Homo sapiens: one gene and its partner. The protein of the gene in region 2 purifies or fractionates together with the protein of the main gene of each other region. This does not show direct contact. Each region holds a gene or a part of one and is shown on either strand. Other genes may lie near its edges.

Region 1 (2,777 bases), on a different chromosome or scaffold from region 2:
CTGAGGGGCAGAGTGGCCGTGTGTGTGCACGGAGGGCAAATGCTGTCTTCCAGGTTACTGTGGAAGGCTGGGTGTGTTGTAACCTTCTATGGGTCACGAATGCTGTGCAGAACACAGTAACACTCTTTCCCTTCTAAAATGTCCTGACCTTACACATTTGACCCACAGCTTTAGGGATTTCATGGACAAGCCCCATCCACAGACCTCAGATTTAAACACTCCATGTCTAGACTCTTCTTTGTAGCTCGCATCACCCATCAATAGAAAAGCCCCCAAAGTTGCAAATTCAGTTGAAAACCCTGACTGTGCTTTCCTAGAATTTAGGAAATCTATTTCTCCGTGTCAAGTTACTTCTGTGGCAGCTCCTTAAGTATGTACCATCCCGCTGCACCCAACTCCATGCTAGCAGGGCAGGCTGGCACCCCACCACTGTCCATGCAGGCTCTGGGGGTCCCACCTGCTCCTGCAGGCAAAGCTAGGCAGTACGATACACAGAGGTCTTGGTTTTATACAGAACCTTTAATTGCAAAGAACTTGAAAGCAGCCACGCTGGGGGTGGCAGTGGAGTGGAGAACCCACCACACCCTCCCCTCAGTATTCTTCACCTTCTTCAGCCTCGGCTTCCACGGAATCCACGCCCACCTCTTCATAATCCTTCTCCAGAGCTGCCAGGTCCTCGCGGGCCTCAGAGAACTCCCCCTCCTCCATGCCTTCTCCCACGTACCAGTGCACAAAGGCCCGCTTGGCATACATGAGATCGAACTTATGGTCCAGGCGAGCCCAGGCCTCCGCGATGGCCGTGGTGTTGCTCAGCATGCACACAGCCCGCTGCACCTTGGCCAGGTCTCCCCCAGGGACCACCGTGGGGGGCTGGTAGTTAATGCCCACCTGCCGGAGAAGAGGAAGAAACAGTCCATGAAGCTTATATCAAACCTGGAAATGGTGGCTGCTTTTCCTCAAAAAGAAGACACCCTGTAGGTGAACAGGAGAATTCTCAGTTCACCCCACAAATGTCACTAAGCCCTTCTCTGTGCCAGGCAGGGTGACAGTTCCAGACAACATATGTTGCCCAGGCTGGCCTCAAACTCCTGGGCCCAATCGATCCACCCACCCCAGCCTCCCAAAGTGCTAGGATTACAGTCATGAGGCAGCATGCCCAGCATTTTTTTTTTTTTTTAAGAATAAGGTATTTTCTAAAGGATTTTTGTGCCCCTTTCTTGGGTGGTAGAATTCATGTGGAAAAGGTAGGTTGAACTTAGTAATTTTATGGGCATTTTGGGGAATCTTGTAGGTGGTGTATATATTTTATTTTAACTTGGGCATTACTATAAACTGCTTCACAACATCATTCGTTCCACTGTCTCATGTAGGGTTTGATTTAAAAAAAGAATGAGTTGTTTGTGATGAAAACAGCAACAGGTGCAGTGGCTCACACCCATTATCCCAGCTCTTTGGGAGGCCAAGGTGGATTTCTTGAACTGAGTTTGAGACCAGCCTGGGCAGTATGGCAAGACCCTGTCTCTACCAAAAATACAAAAAAATTAGCTGGGCATGGTGTCATGCACCTGTGGTCCCAGCTACTCAGGAGGCTGAGGTGGGAGGATTGCTTGAGCCTGGAGGGCAGAGGTTCCAATGAGCTGAGATCCTACCACTCCTTGGGTGACAGAGCAAGACCCTGTCTCAAAAAAATTAAAAGGCCGGGCACGGTGACCCACACCTGTAATCCCAGCACTTTGGCAGGCCGAGGTGGACAGATCACGAGGTCAGGAGATCGAGACCATCCTAGCTAACATGGTGAAACCCGGTCTCTACTAAAAATACAAAAACAAAATTAGCCGGGTGTGGTGGCGGGCGCCTGTAGTCCCAGCTACTCGGGAGGCTGAGGCGGGAGAATGGCATGAACCCAGGAGGCGGAGCTTGCAGTGAGCCAAGATCACGCCACTGCACTCCAGCCTGGGCGACACAGCAAGACTCCGTCTCAAAAACAAAACAAAACAAAACAAAACAAAAAGCAGCAACGTCTTTATTTCTTTTCCGGGAAGCCTAGTAATTTTGGCCTGGGTTTGCCTCAGACACAAAATCTGTCCCCACCTTCCACTGACACAAAAGAAACCTTGCTGTCCTCTTTCAGCTTTATCAATAGTTGGTTACTAAATCTTGTGGCATTTCTCTGTTGGGCCTGTGCGTTCTTGTGCTGTGCTTTCCCTGCTGCCTCTGGCTCAGACCCCCACCGTCTCTGTTGGGGGAGACCACTGCAGTCAGTTCTGACTGGGATTTCCTACTGTGGGTGTCTCTTCTTCTCCTTCAGGGGTTAGCACAGCTGCTGGACTAGCCACCTAATTTTGTAAGATCTTGTCTGAACACAGCCACCACACCCCTTCATTTGCAGATTGATTTTGCTATCCGACAGCAGAGTGGGGTAGGTGTGACAGAGGTCGTGTAACCTGTAAGGCCTAGAATTTGTATGATCTTGTCTTTTTTTCTTTTTTTGAGACAGAGTCTTGTGCTGTCACCCAGGCTGGAGTGCAGTGGAGTGATATCTTCTCACTGCAACCTCCACCTCCTGGGTCCCAGTGATTCTCCTGCCTCAGCCTCCTCAGTAGCTGGGATTACAGGTGCCCGCCACCATACCCGGCTAATTTTTGTATTTTTAGTAGACACGGGATTTTGCCCTGTTGGCCAGGCTGGTGTCAAACTCCTGACCTCAGGTGATCCGCCTGCCTTGGCCTCCCAAAGTGCTGGATTATAGGCATGGGCCACCATGCCCATCCAATTTT
Region 2 (3,657 bases):
GTTCTTCACCTTCTAGCGGATGTGGACCCCTTGGGGATGCTCTTTGGAAAGCCATGGGCCCTTTTCCTCTGGGAAAAAAAAATGCCCACAAGTGCTTACATAAAAAACAGTGCAGGTGATTTAGGAGGTTTCAGGGCCCTTTGCAAGTCCCTCTAGGGACCCTCCATGGCAGCATTTCTCAGAGCTGTCCAGCCTCAGCCCAGCCGCAGCACCAGTCGTAGTCCCAGCCCCAGCCTCGGGTTTCAGATTTTTTGGTTTTGCCTCAGAATCGCATTGGGGCTCTTGCAACCAAGGGAGAGGCCTGAGCCCAGCCCAAAAGCTACTGAGCCCCTCAGGTCAGAGCGCGTAGCATAGTTACCCAGTGCCCACCTGGACCCAGGGCTGCATGTCTGCTGTGCAACTGATCTCCATCAATCAAACCATGATTGTGCCCTCAGCTCAATCTCAATGTTTCGGAAAAATGTCCAAGTAGCCTCACAAGACACACTGAGAAGAGAGAAGGCCTTGCACAGTGTGCAGGAGGAAAATAGTCTGTGGACAAAGGGCTTCTAGTGACACCTTTGTGACCTTCTGGCAAGTGGTGGCCTGATGTTTACACTGTGACACGATCTTCCTGAGGCCCATGGCTCCTAAAAGGCAGCTAGAGGCTGGGAGCAGTGGCTCACACTTGTAATCCCAGTGCTTTGGGAGGCCAAGGTGGGCGGATCACTTGTCAGGAGTTTGAGACCAGCCTGGCCAACATGGCGAGACCCCATCCCTACTAAAAATACAAAAATTAGCTGGGTGTGGTGGTGGGTGCCTGTAGTCCCAGCTACAGGGAGGGCTAAGGCAGGAGAATCGCCTGAACCCAGGAGGCGGAGGTTGCAGTGAGCCGAGATTGTGCCACTGCACTCCAGCCTGGACAACAGAGCGAGATTCCGTCTCAAAAAAAAAAAAAAAAAAAAAAAAAGGGCAGCTAGAGACACTTAGGAAGACAGGTGCATCAGACCTTGGGGTCTCGGGGGCATGCAGCCACCCTGGTGTCCAGCCGGCTTGGACCTGAGGCACCCCTGGCCTTCAGTGGCATCCAGATTGGCAATTGTGCTGTCTCTGGTGGCCAGTCACCAATGGTGTCTTTTCATTTGTTTTTTAGAACACAGGCATATTTTTCAAATAGTAATAATAACTATTTATATTCAGCTTTGCAAAATGTTTAGTATGTGAAAACAACTATCCATGTTGTTACAATGTCACTATAAGAATTTTCCTTTTCCCCCCTACCACCCTCCGCCCCCATCAGGTTCTCACTCTGTCACCCAGGCTGGAGTGCAGTGGCACAACCATGGCTCACTGCAGCCTCAAACTCTCGGGCTCAAGGGATCCTCCTGCCTTGCCTCCAGGTAGCTAGGACTACAGCTGTGCGCCACCATGCCCAGCTAATTTCTGTAATTTTTTGTAGAGATGGGGGGAGGGTCTCAATATGTTGAGGGTGGTCTGGAACCCCTAGCCTCAAGTGATCCTCCTCCCTTGGCCTCCCAAAATTAATTTTACTTTTCTGAAAGATATTTGTAACAGCCTTGTTGAGGTATGATTGATCTACCTAACCTGCAAAACCTGTATTTAATGTGTAAAATTTGATGAGTTTGGGCATATGCAAATAGCCCTGAAACCATCACTACAATCAAAAATAGCCATCAACGGCCAGACAAGGTGACTCACACCTGTAATCCAAGCACTTTCGGAGGCCAAGGTAGGTGGATTGCTTGAGCCCAGGAGTTAGAGACCAGCCTAGGCAGCATGGTGAAACCCTGTCTCTACAAATAATACAAAAATTAGCCAGGCATGGTGGCACATGCCTATAGTCCCAGCTACTTGGGAGGCTGAGATGGGAGGATTGATTGAGCCTGGGAGGTTGAGGCTGCAATGAGCCATTGTCATGCCACTGCACTCCAGACTATGGGACAGAGACTCTGTCTCCAAAAAAAAATCTATTCCAAAGCTTCCTCATGCCCAGTTGGTTTTTTGCTGTTTTGTTTATTGGAGATTTTTTTGGTGGGAACCCTTAACATGAGATCTGATCTCTTAGCAGCATTTTCAAGTGCACAGTATAGTATACGCACTATTTTTTTTTTTTTTTTTTTTGAGGCGGAGTTTCACTCTTGTTGCCCAGGCTGGAGTGCAATGGTGTGATCTCGGCTCACTGCAACCTCCACCTCCCGGGTTCAAGCAATTCTCCTGCCTCAGCCTCCCGAGTAGCTGGAATTACAGGCGCCTGCCACCATGCCTGGCTAATTTTTTGTATTTTTAGTAGAAACGGGGTTTCTCCTTGTTGGCCAGGCTGGTCTGGAACTCTTGACCTCAGGTGATCCACCCGCCTCGGCCTCCCAAAGTGTTGGGATTACAGGCGTTAGCCACAGCGCCCAGCTGTATATGCACTATTATTAACTCTAGGCACAGCGTTGTACAGCAGGTCTCTAGAGAGTATTCATTTTGCGTAAATGAAACTATACCCCTTGAATAGCAGCTCCCATTTCCAAGTCCCTGGCAGCCACCTTGCTTCTCTCTGCTTCTCTGGGTGCCCATGGCTCTTCATAGGGGAGTATAGCTCTGCAGACCACCTCTCAGCCCTGTCCATTCCTTCCTCCTCGGCCCTTGTAGTGAGCTGAACCATGACTCCCAGAAAGATAGGTCCATGTACTAACCCCCAGAACTTGAGAATGTGGCCTTATTTGGAAACAGGGTCTTTGCAGATATAATTAAAGATCTCGAGATGAAATCATCCTAGATTATTCAGATGGGCCCTAAATCCAATCACAAGCATCTTTAGTAGCAACAGAAGACACAGAGGAGACAGCCATGTGAAGACAGAGGCAGAGATGAGAGCGATGTGGCCACAACCAAGGAGCATCGGGAGCCCACAGGAGCTGGAGGAGGCAGGGAGGATTGTCCCTAGAGCCTTCCAGGGAATGTGGCCCTGACGACACTTTGATTTTGTTGGTCTGGCCTCCAGAACTGTGAAAACAAACATTTCTATGGTTTTAAGCCACCAAGGTTTGTGACAATTTGTTATAGCAGCCTCTAGAAGCTAATACAGCCCTCAAGCCATTCCCTGGGCAAATCAGCATGCAGCGATGGTGGGTGGGGCTGTGGCTGGCCCTGCTGGTGGCAGGAGGCTCACCAGCACCCACTCATCCCATACCCCAAGAAGGTGGCTGGAGGATTGAAGCCCTAAGGAGCTGCTCAGTCTAACCACACAAGGACAAAAGGAGAACCATGGTGAGAAATTTTCTTTTTCGCAGTCGCCGTTTACTTAGAAACTTCGCTGAAGCAGAAGCATTCATCCATCCATCCATCTAAAAAATATTTATTAAGTACCTACTGTGTGCCAGCAGCTGCTAAGCACACACCCCTTGCACTTCAGAGTTCCAAGTTCCATATTCCCCTTGGTTTTCTAAAGGGGTGTTTTGGGCACAAGAGGCTCCTCCCAATGACTAACCACACACATTTTGGCACCTGCTGTGTGCCGACACTGGGAGAGGCAGAGCGCATGTCACCTGTGGTGTCTGATGTGGATGACATCCCATTCCAACTGGAATCTCACGGAGTGAATTCATCCCAGAAGGGAGCTCAAGGAAGGGCTCCTCCTCTATGAAGCAGGGTCTGCTCGTGGCCTGTTCC

What was found.
Region 1: the proteins of CFAP77 (region 2) and TUBA3C purify together in Homo sapiens (affinity purification with mass spectrometry, with the first as the bait; 3 studies listed by BioGRID). This does not show direct contact.

The regions. Positions count from the first base shown.
Region 1 is NC_000013.11:19,173,272-19,176,048, forward strand, and holds the end of TUBA3C (tubulin alpha-3C chain), read right to left. Parts: intron 889-2,777; coding exon 592-888; 3' UTR 501-591; downstream 1-500. UniProt on the Homo sapiens protein: Tubulin is the major constituent of microtubules, a cylinder consisting of laterally associated linear protofilaments composed of alpha- and beta-tubulin heterodimers.
Region 2 is NC_000009.12:132,567,021-132,570,677, reverse strand, and holds part of CFAP77 (cilia- and flagella-associated protein 77), read right to left. Parts: intron 1-3,657. UniProt on the Homo sapiens protein: Microtubule inner protein (MIP) part of the dynein-decorated doublet microtubules (DMTs) in cilia axoneme, which is required for motile cilia beating.